Linked DNA regions of Homo sapiens. The protein of the gene in region 1 purifies or fractionates together with the protein of each later gene. This does not show direct contact. Each region holds a gene or a part of one and is shown on either strand. Other genes may lie near its edges.

Evidence for each region. The genes of interacting proteins can lie anywhere in the genome.
Region 2: the proteins of TUBB3 (region 1) and AIFM1 purify together in Homo sapiens (affinity purification with mass spectrometry; 3 studies listed by BioGRID and IntAct, with this or other methods). This does not show direct contact.
Region 3: the proteins of TUBB3 (region 1) and TCP11L1 purify together in Homo sapiens (affinity purification with mass spectrometry; 3 studies listed by BioGRID and IntAct, with this or other methods). This does not show direct contact.

The regions. Positions count from the first base shown.
Region 1 is NC_000016.10:89,933,342-89,936,634, reverse strand, and holds the end of TUBB3 (tubulin beta-3 chain), read right to left. Parts: intron 3,168-3,293; coding exon 3,057-3,167; intron 1,907-3,056; coding exon 831-1,906; 3' UTR 538-830; downstream 1-537. UniProt on the Homo sapiens protein: Tubulin is the major constituent of microtubules, protein filaments consisting of alpha- and beta-tubulin heterodimers. Microtubules grow by the addition of GTP-tubulin dimers to the microtubule end, where a stabilizing cap forms.
Region 2 is NC_000023.11:130,155,838-130,162,874, reverse strand, and holds part of AIFM1 (apoptosis-inducing factor 1, mitochondrial isoform AIF precursor), read left to right. Parts: intron 1-6,271; coding exon 6,272-6,414; intron 6,415-7,037. UniProt on the Homo sapiens protein: Functions both as NADH oxidoreductase and as regulator of apoptosis.
Region 3 is NC_000011.10:33,056,539-33,063,575, reverse strand, and holds part of TCP11L1 (T-complex protein 11-like protein 1), read right to left. Parts: intron 6,462-7,037; coding exon 6,341-6,461; intron 5,658-6,340; coding exon 5,437-5,657; intron 4,618-5,436; coding exon 4,481-4,617; intron 2,062-4,480; coding exon of another isoform or gene 2,047-2,061; coding exon 1,850-2,046; intron 1-1,849.

The DNA.
Region 1 (3,293 bases):
CGTCCCTCCCGGCAGCCCAGGCCTGCGTCCTGTGGCCGCATCTCCCTGACCTCAGCAGCCCCTCCCAGGGCCCAGCCCCGAGACACTAAACACACCGTCTTTTTCAGGGAGCACTCGGGGCCCCCTTCCCTACCTCCCTGGTTGTGACCCGAGGCTTCAGGTCTGATGGCAGTTTCCACCGCAGGAGGGACCACCTGCCCCAACTTTCAGCCTACAGACAGGTGGGAGAAAAGTCTGGGGTGCAAGCCGCTCTGTGGGAGGCCAGGGAACGAGTGTGGGGTTATTTCCAAGTCGGGAGGGCTGCATCTTGAGGTCTGGAATGAGGTACTTCCCGTTCCTTCTCCCGGGCTTCCCGTTTCCGGGGTCTCCCCACGGGCTGTGCCTTGAGACACATTCCGGCCCCCAGCGCAGGCCTCTCTCAGCCGCCAGCCTGGGAGAGGATGAGCTCTTCTTGCCTGTCCACCCGGGCCTCCCTGTCAGCCCCTCCACCTACTGGACACAACTTTCCAGAATAAAAGGACATCTCTGGCACCAAGCAAGGGTATCTGACAGCAATAGATTTATTAAGTATCCCCGAAAATATAAACACAAACCAGTAAAAAACAAAACCGTAAAACGTCAGGCCTGGAGCTGCAATAAGACAGAGACAGGAGCAGCTCACACGTGGCCTAGGTGGGGAGGACGAGGCCATAAATACTGCAGGAGGGCGGCAAGGGAGCCCTAGGGCGAGGGGAAAGCAGGGTGTCGGCAGCAAGATGGCTCCGGGGGTTTAGACACTGCTGGCTTCGGCCCCGGCCGCCACCTGCCTCTCACTCCAGCTGCGAGCAGCTTCACTTGGGGCCCTGGGCCTCCGACTCCTCCTCGTCGTCTTCGTACATCTCGCCCTCTTCCTCGGCCGTGGCGTCCTGGTACTGCTGGTACTCGGACACCAGGTCGTTCATGTTGCTCTCGGCCTCGGTGAACTCCATCTCGTCCATGCCCTCGCCCGTGTACCAGTGCAGGAAGGCCTTGCGCCGGAACATGGCCGTGAACTGCTCGGAGATGCGCTTGAACAGCTCCTGGATGGCCGTGCTGTTCCCGATGAAGGTGGAGGACATCTTGAGGCCGCGGGGCGGGATGTCACACACGGCCACCTTCACGTTGTTGGGGATCCACTCCACGAAGTAGCTGCTGTTCTTGCTCTGGATGGCCAGCATCTGCTCGTCCACCTCCTTCATGGACATGCGGCCCCGGAACACGGTGGCCACCGTCAGGTAGCGGCCGTGGCGCGGGTCGCAGGCGGCCATCATGTTCTTGGCATCGAACATCTGCTGGGTGAGCTCGGGCACGGTCAGGGCCCGGTACTGCTGGCTGCCCCGGGCTGTGAGGGGGGCGAAGCCGGGCATGAAGAAGTGCAGGCGCGGGAAGGGCACCATGTTGACGGCCAGCTTGCGCAGGTCAGCGTTGAGCTGGCCCGGGAAGCGCAAGGAGGTGGTGACTCCGCTCATGGTGGCCGATACCAGGTGGTTGAGGTCCCCGTAGGTGGGCGTGGCCAGCTTGAGGGTGCGGAAGCAGATGTCGTAGAGCGCCTCGTTGTCGATGCAGTAGGTCTCATCCGTGTTCTCCACCAGCTGGTGGATGGACAGCGTGGCGTTGTAGGGCTCCACCACCGTGTCTGACACCTTGGGTGAGGGCACGACGCTGAAGGTGTTCATGATGCGGTCGGGATACTCCTCACGCACCTTGCTGATGAGCAACGTGCCCATGCCGGAGCCCGTGCCGCCCCCCAGCGAGTGGGTCAGCTGGAAGCCCTGCAGGCAGTCGCAGTTTTCACACTCCTTCCGCACCACATCCAGGACCGAATCCACCAGCTCCGCCCCCTCCGTGTAGTGACCCTTGGCCCAGTTGTTGCCGGCCCCACTCTGACCTGTACAGGGAGAAGAGGGGTAAGAGACAGGGGCCAGGGACTCTGCAGTCCAGACCTCCAGCCCCTGCCTGAACATCCCAAGGGCAGCCGTGGCAGCCCCATGCCTGTTCTGTCTTCTGTAAAGTAGGCCCCACTGAGCACCCCTTCTCATACCCGCCGTGGCTTCCCTGAGCCGATGCTGCTGAGTGCTCAGGACGAGGGCTCTGGACAGAGTCTTGAGAACTTGGGGTCACAGCAGAGCGAGGCTCTGCCTCCTGAGGGGATCCTGGGTGAATGGATCAGCCCTCCTGCTCCAGCATACCTTCCTTCCGACTGGCAGTGCCAGGAGCCCAAACAGCCACCCCAGAATCCCTGGCAGCTGGGGGCTGGATGCGAGTTGGCATCTACCAGCTGGATGTGCTGCGGTCGGGAAGGCAGAAGTGAAGCGAGGCCCTCCTGTTTCTGTGGCGCGTCCACGGCCCCGCCCCAGGACACAGACATGGGAACGTGGCATCCACGGCCCCGCCCCAGGACACAGGCATGGGAACGTGGCATCCACGGCCCCGCCCCAGGACACAGGCATGGGAACGTGGCATCCACGGCCCCGCCCCAGGACACAGGCGTGGGAACGTGGCATCCACGGCCCCGCCCCAGGACACAGGCGTGGGAACGTGGCATCCACGGCCCCGCCCCAGGACACAGACGTGGGAACGTGGCATCCACGGCCCCGCCCCAGGACACAGACGTGGGAACGTGGCATCCACGGCCCCGCCCCAGGACACAGACATGGGAACGTGGCATCCACGGCCCAACCCCAGGACACAGGCATGGGAACGTCCTGATCTCTTGACCGCAGCAAGGCCTCGTGCTCCTGGACCCCGGAGTCCTCTGGAGGCCCCGTTCTGTCTCACCAGCTCTCTAGCAATTCTGTAAGCTTCTGTCTGCTTTACACTTCATTCCACTTGAAATGCATGAGTGGTTTCTGTTCTCCCCACAGAACCCTTTCTCTGGGCCTCCAATGCCCAGCTGTAAAATGGAGAGATGAGTTCCCACCATTCAGGATCATGTGAGGAGCTGACCATTCCTTGTTTCTCACAGCCGTCCCCGTCCACCGACCTGGGCTTGCCTGTGATGGGGTCTGCCATCAGAGCTTGGAGCAGGGGGAACTTACCAAAGATGAAATTGTCAGGCCTGAAGAGATGTCCAAAGGCCCCTGAGCGGACACTGTCCATGGTTCCGGGTTCCAGGTCCACCAGAATGGCTCGAGGCACGTACTTGTGAGCTGAGGGGAGAGAGGGGCTCGGTGATTCGGGTCACAGAGGGCCAGAGCCTCTCCCTCATTCTTTCTGAATTCTGTGCCCGCCTGCCATCCTCCTGCTCACATCCTAAGAGCCTGTACTCTGAAGTC
Region 2 (7,037 bases), on another chromosome or scaffold:
CTGCATTCAGACACAGAGGAGCAGATAGGTTAGATAATAGACATTTTCTGTTCTATAATATTTTGTTTGGTCACCAAACAGTGCTGCCCATGTTATCAAACTGATCACCGACTCCCTGACTTTAGGTTCAAATGTTTGAACGTTTTTCTCTATTTGGAATCCTTCTCACCTCTTTAAAAAGGAAACTGAGCTCCTTGTGGGCAAGGATCCTGGCTTCCTGGACACTGCCAAATGTGACTTCGTTTTGAAGCCTAAAAGATGAGTCTTCCCCCGTTGTTTCTGCTGAGACAAGGCTTTGCAGAAGAAATTCTTTGGCAGCTCAGCCCTTTCTGTAACCAGTTAATAAGTTACATTTTCTAGAAATGTTCTAACTTTTTGAGGGAGTTACTGCATGTCTTAGCTTTCTTCTAGATCATGTTTCCAAAAGTTGCCTGCTCATGTGAATCGAGTAGAGAACCAGTTCCTAACCTTCTCCAGGAGATAATTCTGGGAATCTGTATTTTAACAAGCCCCTTGACATTCATATGATCAGACAAGTTTGGTATATACTGTTTTGGATGAGTAGTGACTCTTCCCCTTCTGTTTTGCTGACGTAAGGATTAAAAAACCAAACTGAGCAATCTGGAGTCTCTTGTGATTTGTATCAAGCTCATTTTCTCATATTCAGAATAGTAGCAGCCATTCTCCTAAATTAAACACTACCTGAGGACATGGATTATGTCCTATTTATTTTTGTGTCCTTAGCATCTTGTACCATCTCTGGCACATGGTAAATTCTCGTGACTGAACCCTAGTACAGCATTGTGAAGGACTTAACTTTGCAGAAGAGAGATTTTATTTTGTTATCTAAATAATTTTTCCTTGTGTGTCTTTCATCAGAATGGTTCACGCTGTACTATAGTTATTACTACTCTGTTTCTTCTAAAATTCCAGCAAGGGTTGATATTAAAAAATTAAAAAAGGCTGATAGCTAGGCGTGGTGGCTCACGCCTGTAATCCCAGCACTTTGGTATGCCAAGGTGGGCAGATCACTTGAGGTTGGAAGTTCAAGACCAGCCTGACCAACATGGAGAAACCCCGTCTCTACTAAAAATCAAAAATTAGCCAAGCGTGGTGGCACATGCCTGTAATCCCTGCTACTCGGGAGGCTGAGGCAGGAGAATTGCTTGAACCCGGGAAGTGGAGGTTGCGGTGAACCGAGATCACACCACTGCACTCCAGCCTGGACGACAGAGCGAGAATCTGTCTCAAAAAAAAAAAAAAAAGGCTGATAAATAGTTGTTGGATCCCTTGTAAAGAATCATTTATCTACAATGGACAGACTATCTAGGCTTGTCCTGTGTTTTTTTTTTTTTTTTTTTCTTCAAACAGAGTCTTGCTCTGTTGCCCAGGCTGGAGTGCAGTGACACAATCTCAGCTCACTGCAACCTCTGTCTCCTGGGTTCAAGTGATTCTCCTGCCTCAGCCTCCCGAGTAGCTGGGATTACAGGCACCTGCCACCACGCCCAGCTAATTTTTGTATTTTTAGTGGAGACGGGGTTTCACTGTATTGGCCAGGCTGGTCTCGAACTCCTGACCTCGTGATCCGCCCACCTCGGCCTCCCAAAGTGCTGGGATTACAAGTGTGAGCCACCGCACCTGGCTGTCCTGTGTTTTCTCCATGCTGGAAAAATCAGTTTGACCCTCAGGAAACAAGTCTCAAGAACGTATAGATCTCTTAACCATTTAGGATCCCTGGGTGCCTCAATTGTGAAGTTGTGTTTTTGGAAAACGCCTTTTGGGAGTATGGAAAAACAGGAAATCACAAAACCTACAGAAATGAACTTGCTAGTTTAGCTACTATTCTAATGCTGGTCTATGGTGTTTGAGGTTACTCATTTATGATTAAGCAACCTAAAATAAATGGAATCTGGCTAAAGCTTTTTTTAAAAAAAACTCTTAAGTTTATTTTTTCATTTTATTTATTTATTTATTTATTTATTTATTTATTTTTAAGTAGAGACGGGGTTTCACCATGTTGGCCAGGCTGGTCTCAAACTCGTGGTCTCAAGTGATCCACCAACCTCGGCCTCCCAAGGTGCTGGGATTACAGATGTGAGCCACCGCGCCTGCCCTGGCTAAAATTTCTTTGCAAAGAATTATTTAAAATGTTCAGTTATCCGGGCACGATGGTGCATGCCTGTAGTCCCAGCTATTCTGGAGGCTAAGGTGGAAGGATCACTTGAGCCCAGGAGTTTGAGTCTAGTCTGGGCAACATACTGATACCTTTTCATTTAAAAAAAATTTTAATAGTAATAAGAATGTTCAGTCAATATCAATAGAATTAGGAAGAATTTCTATTTCCTTCCTTCATTAATTCAACAAATATTTATTGAGCAAACATCTGTGTGTCGTCTGGCGCTGTTGCACAGGTCAAACTGGCTTCTTAAGAATGAAATCCTAAGTGTGAGGAAGAAATTGCATTGTATGTGTGGTCTGACTGCAGAAAACCTAAAATAAGTAAACTGCTGCCATGATGAAAAGTCAAGGAGTAAGTTGGCTTTTCCATGTTAGTAAGACAAGTGAAAAGGCATGTTTCAGTCACGATGTAATATTTCCTAAAATTTTGAAGCTATGGGGAGAAAGGTTTGGGAGGAATTTCATAGGGAAAAGAAAATGTGGGGAGGGGGAATGTAAGCAAACAATACTTAGTACATTTTACAAAATTAAAGTCACTTTGTAGGTATATAAAAAGTTTTAAAAGTTGGTTTATTAATGAGAGTAGTGTATTACATTTCTTTTCAAGCAGTAGTTTAAATATTAACCAGTTTACTTTTTTTTAAAGTCAATTTACTTTTCCAGCCTGGACAACATGGTGAAACCTCGTATCTACAAAAAATAGAAAAATTAGCTGGGCGTTGGTGGCTCACGCCTGTAGTCCCAGCTACACAGGAGGCTGAGGCTGGTGAATGGCTTGAGCCCAGGAAGCATAGGTTGCAGTGAGCCGAGATTGTGCCACTGCACTCCAGCTTGGGGACAGAGTGAGACCCTGTCTCAAAAAAAAAAAGTCCATTTACTTTTAAATGCTTTTTTCTTTTTTTTTTGGCAAATTGAGACAAAAGCTGCTGAACTTTCCTAAATCTACACTGTTAGTATTATCAGTTTGTGAAAAGCAAGCAGAAGGAGAATAAACATGAGTATGATATTAAAACAAATTTGTTATAATGTCTGTATTTAGGGTCTTCTGGAGGAATAAACAGAATTAAAAAAAAGAAAAACAAAAACAAAAAAAATTTATTTTTAGTAAATGAACCAGGGGTAGAGGTGGAGGACAAACTAAATTCATTGAACTAAATCACATGGAACTTTTCCTAACCAGTTTCATTTTCTAAGCTCTGAGAGTTACCACTTTCTACTTCTGATGGTTCATTATTTTTGTAAGCTTCTGAAAATCAAAAGCTTGCCCAGATTGAGATAAGTTTCTGCCCCGCTCACGTTTTTATTTTCATGATTTGTCATTATTTCCAAATCTCAACCATTTTATTTCATGTGGTGATGAAGAGTTCTAAAAGCAGGTAAGAAGAACAGTAAAGAAAAATACATTTCCTTTTCTAAGAGTGTAGATCTAAAGTCTCTTATCTGTAATTCAGAAATTGAAATTGTAGAATGACCAAAATTTAAGACTATCAAGTTTTCATAACTCATTTGCCAGTAAAACCTGACCTGAACTGGAGAGAGGCTACTTTATAATCTTTTTAAAATATCACTTAGCGTGATTGGTCATATTAATATGTTTAACTATGAATTGCTGCCCTTTACCTTGCTAGGTGTCACTATGTGGTATATGCCCCATATACTTAAGACCAGATAATTCAAAGTTCCAAATTATACATGGTCCCCAGGATTTCAGATGAGAGACCACAGATCCACATTGGGCTTGTTTTTACCCGTCTGTGGCCTAACGTTATGAAAGCAAGGGGGAAATTCCTTCTCTAATCTCTGCAAGTATACATGGGATGCTACTACCAGTGTCCATTCTGTTTGTCTTTTAAAGCCTAGACAGGACAGGGACATAAGTATCAGCCTCTAGACTAAGCTTGTCCAACCTGCAGCCCAACACAAATTTGTAAACTTTCTTAAAACATTATGAGATTTTTTTGCGATTTTTTTTTTTTTTTTTTTTTTTTTTTTAGCTCATCAGCTATGGTTAGTGTTAGTGTATTTTATATGTGGCCCAGGACAATTCTTCTTCTTCCCATGTGGCTCGGGGAAGCCAAAAGATAGGATATACCTGCTCTAGACAGATGGTTCTCAATGTGTGGTCCCCACCCTAACAGCAGCAGCAGCAACAGCAGCATCCCCTGGGAACTTGTTAGAAATGCACATTCTTGAGCCCCATCCCAGATCTATTGAATCAGAACCTCTGGGCCTGGGGCCTGGCCAGCTTTGTTTTATAAAACCTTCAGGGCATTGGGATACACTCTCAAGTTTGAAAACCACTGCTCTAGATCGGGGTCTGCCAACTACAGCCACAGGCCAAAGCCAGTCAGTCACCTGCTTTTGTATGCCCCAGGAGCCATGAGTGGGTTTTGCATTTTTTTTCTTTTTTCTTTTTCTCTTTTTTTTTCTTTGAAATGGAGTTTCGCTCTCGTTGCCCAGTCTGGAGTGCGATGGCACAATCTCGGCTCACTGCAACCTCCGCCTCCTGGGTTCAAGCTATTCTCCTGCCTCAGCCTCCCGAGTAGCTGGGATTATAGGCATAAGCCACCACGCCCGGCTAATTTTTTGTATTTTTAGTAGAAACAGGGTTTCTCCATGTTGGTCAGGCTGGTCTCTAACTCCCAACCTCAGGTGATTCACCCTCCTCGGCCTTCCAAAGTGCTGGGATTACAGGCGTGAGCCACTGCACCTGGTCTTTTTTCTTTTCTTTTTTTTTTTTTTTGAGACGGAGTCTCACTCTGTTGCCAGGCTGGAGTGCAGTGGTGCGATCTCGGCTCACTGCAACCTCCGCCTCCCGGGTTCAAGCGATTCTCCTGCCTCAGCCTCCCGAGTAGCTGGGACTACAAGCATGCCCCACCACACCTGCCCAGCTAATTTTTAACGGGGTTTCACCATGTTGGCCAGGATGGTCTCGATCTCTTGACCTCGTGATCTGCCCACCTAGGCCTCCCAAAGTGCTGGGATTACAGGCGTGAGCCACCACGCCTGACCTACATTTTTTAAACGGCTGAAAAAAAAAAGAATTTCGTGACACATGAAAATTATATAAAATTTAAACTTCAGTGTCCATAAAGTTTTATTGGAACATGGCCACATCCATTCATTTATGTATTGTCTTTGGCTGCTTTTATGCAGCATCAGTGGAATTGAGTAGTTGCAGCAGACACCAAATGGCCCAGAAAGCTGAAAATATTTACCATCTGGTTCTTTGCAGAAAAAATTTGCTGCTCTAGGTTGATAGTCAACAAACACGAGGAGTAATCACAGAATAATCAGAGACTGAGACCTTCCTTTATCTGAAAATGTCAGCGTCTCCCTAGAAAAAGAAATCTACAGAACTCTTATATTTCTATGTACAGGTGCTGTTATGATCATCACATCATTACATAGCTCTGCATAGTTTTACGTCAAAATAACCTTTGTATTATTTTGGAGGAGTAAGAGTCAAGGAGTTGCTGGACACTTCACATTTTGTCATTATAAAAAATATTTCATAGTCCAAAATTTTTTAGTTCTTTGGGGGAGAGAAACTCATTAAAATTTTTTTTTCTGATTTTCTTCTGAGCTTTAACATTTCTGTATTCCAGGACACATTACCTTTCATGCAAGATTGAACTGTGTCCTGGTTAGAGTGTTGCGTTTTATTTTGTGCAAGATTGGAACCATCTAGATTACTCCTTAAATGGTTGTTATAATGTCCCAGGTAGCCCATGGTTAACTTTGTATATCTACCTATTCAGTCATCTCTCTGTGTTTACTTAATTTATGGGAAAGACATGAAGGAAGAGGTATTTGATGAACTGTTCGTGTTTTTCATGATCTTTTCTGGAAGCTGAAAATTTTCTCACTGGACAGCATTAAATTTTACTCTTAAAAACTTCAGCAACTTAAGAGCGTTCATTCAGCTGTCTGTAGTATTTATATATGCAGTTTTGATGATATTTTTCTTGATCATTTAACGGTGAATATCTGTGGGCAATAAGTCTTGTACAGTGCATTGACATTTAATCATAAATATGTATTAACTATTTTATTTTTGTATGTGTGTGTCTTAATAAATTATGTTTCTTAGGCAACTTGTTCCAGCGATGGCATGTTCCTCTAGAACTCCAGATGACAAGACAAATGGCTAGCTCTGGTGCATCAGGGGGCAAAATCGATAATTCTGTGTTAGTCCTTATTGTGGGCTTATCAACAGTAGGAGCTGGTGCCTATGTAAGTAGAAAAGCAGCGTGTATAAAGAAGCTGCCAAACAGCTCCCATTAATAGACTCGATAGTATTCTGCTTTAAAACTTTTGCAACTAATTCCCCTTTCTCCTTTTGGAAAAATTTTCAAAAAGCCTTCTCTTAAGTGCCTGCTGCCTAATATCTTATGGGAGCCAATTCTGGAATGACTGAAATTTAATCTCATGTTGATTGATTTCTGCTCTTTTCACTTGTCTTTTTCTTCTTTACTTGAAAGCCACTATGTTTTCCTAGATTCGAGTAACCCACAAAATTGTACCTGTTTTCTTGGATGTCACACACTAACCTGTGAATAAAGTCAAAATCCATTGCAGCTCCTTAGCACAATATTTGATTTTGACCTATTTGTCAGACATTTTATTTCCTCAGCTTGAGGTTCACATTAAAAAAACAACAGCCTTCAATCAAAAATATTAAGTGTTCCTAAAAGGAAAGCTATCCCTGAATCTTACCCAAAGACTAAATTACAGAAACAGGGCTAGTATCACTGATTTTAGAATGGAGTTTGTTTGAGGTGAGAAATATGGTGTTTAATTGCTATGTAGTATTAGCACCATTATATCTCCTTAAATGAACTCCGATCAGCTTAGCA
Region 3 (7,037 bases), on another chromosome or scaffold:
ATATTGTTCAGCATGGAAGGGGAAGAAGTTTCTTTAGATAAAGCTGTGAACAACCACACCTCTGTTGTGGTTTCCATCAAGATGAGTAAAAACAGGAGAAAAATTCAGCAGCACAGACTGGAGCCTCATACATTGCTGGTGGGATGGTAAAATGATGCAGCTGCTTTGGAAATCAGTTTGGCAGTTCCTCAAAATGTTAAACTTAAGAGTCACCATGTAACCCAGCAATTCTAATCCTAGGTACGTAACCAAGAGAGGTAAAAACATATGTCCATGCAAAAACTTGTACTGGAATATTCACAGAAGCATAATTTATAATAACAACCCAAATGTTTGTCAACTGATGAATGAATAAACAAAATGTGGTACATCCATACAGTAAAATATATTATTCAGCCTAAAAAAGAAAGGAGGGCTGGGCATGGTAGCTCATGCCTGTAATCCCAACACTGGGAGGCCAAGGAGGGAGGACCACTTGAGGCCAGGAGTTTAAGATCAGCCTGAGTAACATAGCGAGACCCCTGTCTCCACAAAAAACACACTTAAAAATTAGCTGGGGGTGGTGGTACACTCTTGTAGTCCTAGCTACCCAGGAGGCTGAGGCAGGAGGATCACTTGGGCCCTGAAGTTCAAAGTTACAGTGAGCTGTCGTACCACCTAGCCTGAGCAATTCAATGAGACCCTGTCTCTAAAATTTAAAAAAATTTTAAAAAACCCAGAAAGGGAACACTGACACATACTACAACATAAATGAACCTTGAAGACATTATGCTAAGTAAAATAAGCCAGACCCAAAAGGACAAAGATTGTATAATTCCACTCATATTAAGTACCCGGATTAGTCCAATTCACAGAGACTCAAAGTAGAATGGTGGCTGCCAGGGGCCAGAGGGCGGGGGCAATGGGAATTACTGTTTGGTGTGTTTGGTGGGAAGACAGTTTCACAGAAGGAAAAATGAAAATGTTTTGGAGGTGGCTGGTGGCAATGGTTGCACAACAATGTGGATGCACTTAATGCCACTGAACTGGACAACTAGAAATGGTTAAAATGGTAAATTTTATGTTATGTGTATTTTACCACAACAACAAAAAAAACACAGTGGAAAAGAGGACTAAACTACTGCTATATGTGCTACAACGTGAAAAAACATTGGTGAAAGAAGCCAGGCACAAAAGGCTGGTAGTGTATGATTTCATTTAAATAAAATGTCCAGGATAGGCAAATCCATAGAGACAGAAAGCAGATCTGTGGCTTCAGGCGTTGGAGGGAGGGGGGGAGGGCAGTGACCGCTGATGGATGCAGCGTTTCTATTGGAGGTGATGAAAATGTTCTCAATTAAACAGTGGCAATGGATGCGTAACTCTGTGACTATACTAGAAAACACTGAGTTGTACACTTTAAAAGGGAGAATCTTCTGGTACATGAATTATATCAGAATAAAGCTATTCTTTTTATTTTTTATTTTATTTATTTACTTATTTATTTTTATTTTTTGAGACAGAGTCTCGCTCTGTCGCCCAGGCTGGAGTGCAGTGGTGCAATCTTGGCTCACTGCAAGCTCCGCCTCCCAGGTTCAAGCAATTCTCTGCCTCAGCCTCCCAAGTAGCTGGGGCTACAGGCCCCTGCTACCACGCCCAGCTAATTTTTTGTATTTTTAGTACAGAGGGTGTTTTGCCATGTTGCCCAGGCAAGTCTTGAACTCCTGACCTCAAGCAATCTGCCTGCCTCTGCCTCCCAAAGTGCTGGGATTACAGGAGTGAGCCACCGTGCCTGGCCAAAGCTATTCTTTTTAAAAAGTTCAGCAGCACAAAAACAAATATGAGTAGTGAGATGGCTCAGGAGACCTACTTCGGGGAACGGCCTCTGGAGGTGGTCCCACTTCAGAAGCTTCAGGTAAGCGTAATTCTGGACAGCAACAGGGCTCAGCCTGGGCATGTCCCCAGAGCCAGCAGCCATTCCCCCCACTGGCAGGGCGTGTTTATACTTCTGAGTCATAAGGTCCTCTGAGGCTTCTTCCAGCCACTGGGTGACAAAGTCCAGGGAATCTGTGAAAAACAAAGCTGCACACATTACCTTGACACCAAGAAGGGATGCTTCTCGGAATTACTTAAGGGACAATCGATGTCCTGGTGGAGTGATAAAGTATAAAGTATGAACTTTGGAATCAAATAAAACTTGGATCAAATCATAGTAGTGCCAATGACTAACTGAGGGATCTCAGGCAAGTCATAATGTGTCTGAGTTTCAGATGCCTGATATAGGCAAATTTACAACACCCACCTCACAGGCTGTTGTGAGGATTAAACAAGATAATGAATAAGCCAGGCATGGTGGCTCATGCCTGTAATCCCAGCACTTTGGGAGGCTGAGGTGGGAAGACTGCTTGAGCCCAGGAGTTCGAGACCAGCCTGGGCAATGTGGCAAGGCTCTGTCTCTACAAAAGATACAAAAATTAGCTGGGCATGGTGGCACATGCCTGTAGCCCCAGCTAGCTGGGAGGCTGAGGCAGGAGAATCACTTGAGTCCTGGAGGTTAAAGTTGCAGTGAGTGGTGATCACACCACTGTACTCCAGCCTGGGGGACAGAGCTAGACCCTGTCTAAAATAATAATAATAATAGTAACAAATACATGACACCTAGCCAGGCCTTGCCACCCACCTGGTATTTAACAAACCTTCCTTCCCTTCTCTCCCATCCTGACCACTGCATGAGATGGACCCCAAAGCCCTGGCAACTCCAGCTCTAGAGACAGATAGGATGAGACACCAGCTAGAGTTTCCCTGTGTAAAGTATCCTCTACACTGATGATGAGGCTTTTCCTTGTTTAGATCTTAACCTTGTATCAATCTGGCTTCCTTTCAACCTGGGGGAAAGTGAACTCTGTCAGGGAAGCCCCATCTGGCTTTCAGCAGCCCTCCTGCACCCCTGCTTTTCTAAGCTTGGTAATGCAGGGGGCACTCTGAGGGATACAGAGAGAGAGCTGGAGGATCTCACACATCATCTGATAAAAACTGCACCTGTCAGGTCCCAGCAGGTGTTGCAGCTCTGTTAGTGGAGGCTTCCTGCTTCCTTAAAACCAAGTGGGCGGCCAAGGTCACAGCTGTGGTTTGCTCTTCACTGGGGCAGGGGGATGCAGCTCCAGTTTACCCTGAGCTCTCGGTCATGACTCCTGGGCCATCTGGCTTCACCCTCTCTTCTGCTGATAATATTCTCCGTAACCCCCCAGCTTTGGGAAACCCAGGCTTTCATGTTGTGAGTTAAGTGCTAGATGCAGGCACTGTAGCTGCTTCCACCCTACCAGTGAGTCCTCCACTATGCCCCAGCTTCCAGGTCCAGGCCTTAATATTACGGCTCTTCAGGCTACAAAACTCTGCCTAGCGGAGGTTGCAGTGAGCAGAGATCGTGCCACTGCACTCCAGCCTGGGTGACAGAGTGAGGAGACTCTATCTCAAAGAAAACAACAACAACAACAAGAAAAAACTCTTCCCAGTACTCTCACAACACTGGTGAGAGTGTGAGCTTGTGGTCAATCCATTCTGGTCAAAAATCTCCCAAAACCTGTTTCCAACATCTGTAAAATGGGATTAAAAAAAAGGTGCCTGGCTCATCAGCTTACTGTGTGAGGATTACATATGATCATGTACATCCAGCCCTTGGCACAAGCCTGGCACTTAGTAAACATTACCAAACTTCTTCTACTTCTACCTCTACCCTGTCCTTTCTCAACCTGCCCCGGCCCCAGCACTACCTCAGACTCCTCTGCCTGGGGCTGGATGAATCAACTGCATGGGGCATTCACTTAACTAATCTGGTCAGGCAACCCAACCAACCCAGAGACTGCTGTTTTCATCTCCTCGTCAGCAAAGTTAGAGGCCAAATGGAATTCATCATACATTGAATCTGAAGACTGAAATTTACCCAGAATGTCAGTTAGCAATGCAGAGACCATAAAAAGCACCCTAGAAATACAACGTAGTTTTAGATTCTGAGAGTCGTCTGTTTTCTGCAGTCATCGGAGAGGTTCATAAAAATGAGACTCTTCCTGGGTATGAAACAAGAAGATTTATGCATCCAGAACAAAAGCAAAGTTAAATTTCCTGCTGTGCCACACAGGGAGAAGAAAAGTGAATTAACATTCACAGGATGTCTGTCATGTTTTCAAAAATCAAGACCAAGAATGTATTTTACTTCAAACTGGTGTTTTCATCAAAAAACCATTTATAATTTAGGAATTCATTGTTTTTAATTTCTATTCTCATAGCCTACTCACATTCCTTTTGCTTGTGAATTAAGTTTTCTTTTCAATGCTTAACAACTCTAGATGTAGTCCCAACATTTTGTGCTTTTCCTTCTTCAAATTAGACTATTCTCCTACTAAATTTTAGTTTTGTTCTGAAAATAATATTATGCAACAAGCTATGGCAGCTAAAATGAAAAACCACAGACAACAAAAAAAGTACCACAAAATATTCAACATACTTGGTTGCCTCTCCAAAATCTCTTGAAACTTCTTCCTTTCGTATTCAACTGACTGCTGCATGAGATGAGGCCTGATGCTACTGATAGCAAAGTTGGCCATGTCCACTTTCATTAGGTCCAACACAGAAAAAATTTCTCTGAAAGAAAAAAGGATTTAGAAGCAAGCATTTGTAAAGTAAACATAGCATTAAAGGAAAAGAGGACCAGACGCGTGGCTCACACCTGTAATCCCAACACTTTGGGAGGCCAAGGCGGGAGGACTGCTTGAGCCCAGGAGTTCCAGACCAGCCTGGGCAGCATAGCAAATGTGACAACATGATAAAAACTGATGGATCCACATGAAGGGCTTGTGAGTGTTGATTGTACTGTTTTTGTAACTTTTCTGTAGGTTTGGAATTTTTCAAAAGAAAATGTTGAAGGAAATTAATGTATAAAAAATATATCTATGTATCAAAATGATAAGAGTGATTATGCCTCTGAGAGGTAAAATTATGAGTAAATGTCTTCTTTTTACTTTTCTGCATTTTACAAATTTTTTTTTTTTTTTTAAATCCATGAGTACCAAGACTTCAGGAAGTTTAAATTGAAAATAGTTCTGGTCTGGGCACAGTGGCTCACGCCTGTAATCCCAGCACTTTGGGAGGCCAAGGCAGCCAATCACGTGAGGTCAGGAGTTCGAGACCAGCCTGGCCAACGTAGTGAAACACCATCTTTACTAAAAATACAAAAATTAGCTGGGCACGGTGGTGCGTGCCTATAATCCCAGCTACTCAGGAGGCTGAGGCACGACAATTGCTTGAATCCAGGAGGTGGAGGTTGCAGTGAACCAAGATCACGCCATTGCACTCCAGCCTTTGCAACAGAGTGAGACTCTGTCTCAAAAAAAAAAGAAAAGAAAAAAAAGAAAATGCCTCTGAATTGTAGTTGCACGGAGTATGATTAACATATTTCCATACCTGAAAAGGGGCACTATTTCCTTAATGTCCTTTAGTTTCTTAACTTCCTCATCTCGAGCAGGTGCACACAGTGTCCCCATCATGCCAATAATGAATTCTGCCAGCTTGGAAATGTCTAGCGCCCCATTCTCTGCTTCCTGCTTTATCAGATCCAGATCCAAGACTTCTGTTATCTGGTTTCTCAGTCTAGTATGACCAGGCAGCAAGAAAGATAAGAGAGTCTACAAGAGAACACAGCTACGTTTAATCAAAATTCTTTAGACATCATTTCTAATTATATGTAATTTATAACTATCCAAATAAGGGCTTCTCAATTGCTACGTAATATTGCACATATTTTACTTCTTATTCAACAAACCTACAGAAAAACATGTTTACAAATCATTTACAATAGCTACTTAAGCTTCCATTTAAGCCCTAGGTAGCAATTAAATGGATAGAAGAAAAAACTGTTAATGGTGAAAAAAGAAAAGCATGTTTATTAATGTGAGCCTGTGAGCCAACCATAGCTGATGACAATTTCCATGCATACATTTCTTCTTTGATGCTACTGCTAAAGGCGCTGCAAAAACAGTCCCTCCACCTAAAGCTTTCTCTGTCCCAAAGGCTGAGTCACTTTTTGGCCATTATAAATGGAATGTGTCCACACCTATTAAAATTTATAAATAAACTAGATTTTGTGAAATAACTTTGTTGTCTTAAATGCCTTCAGGTTATCATGGTTTGCTTAAAACTTTTTTTTAAAAAAGGGCATTAAGCCAAAAACACTCTTGATCCACCTTCTGGCAAGTACTTTAACTTCTTGATCCTTCAATTTCTTTAAAGTCTTCTGGTGGTGACACAAGAAGTTGAATAAACACTCCTAACACACCAGAAAAGCATCACAATTCACTCTTTGCCTCACCTCTTTGATTTCTCCTACAAGTTTGATAGCATGGTCATATGCTGGGGGATCTTCACTTAGCTGCACACTCAAGCAATCCCAAAACGCTTTATGTACAATCTCCTTTACTCTCTTCTTCAAGCTGGGGCAGTGAAAAAAAAAAGGAGGGGGGCAAAAACCAAAATATTTGAGTTTCAAATCACTTTCAAAAGCACAAATACTATGGGTTTAGGGTAAGATCAATCCCAGTGATTTGGACCAAGGAAAGATTTCCCAGGCATACTTCAACTGAGGGCATACTTTATTTTAAAAGTTAGTGATTTTTTGCAATAAGCATCTCATTGGAAAGAATCGCTCTCAACTAACTGGATAGCCAACATTAATCCAAGAAACAGCATATGACAGTGCCATATAATAAGAATATTGGAAAGTTCAAAGCTGTTAATTTTAGTTCCCTGTTACTAGTAAGTTTCCTAAGATGTTTATAATTAGGTAGTCTAAGATAACAATTTAGGCTGGGCGTTGTGACTTACGCCTGTAATCCCAGCACTTTTGGAGGCCGAGGCAGGCAGTTCACCTGAGGTGAGGAGTTCGAGATCAGCCTGGCCAGAGGTTGCAGTGAGCCGAGATAGTGCCACTACACTCCAGCCTGGACAACAGAGCGAGACTCTGTCTCAAAAAAATAAAATAATAATAATAAGATAACAATTCAGTATGT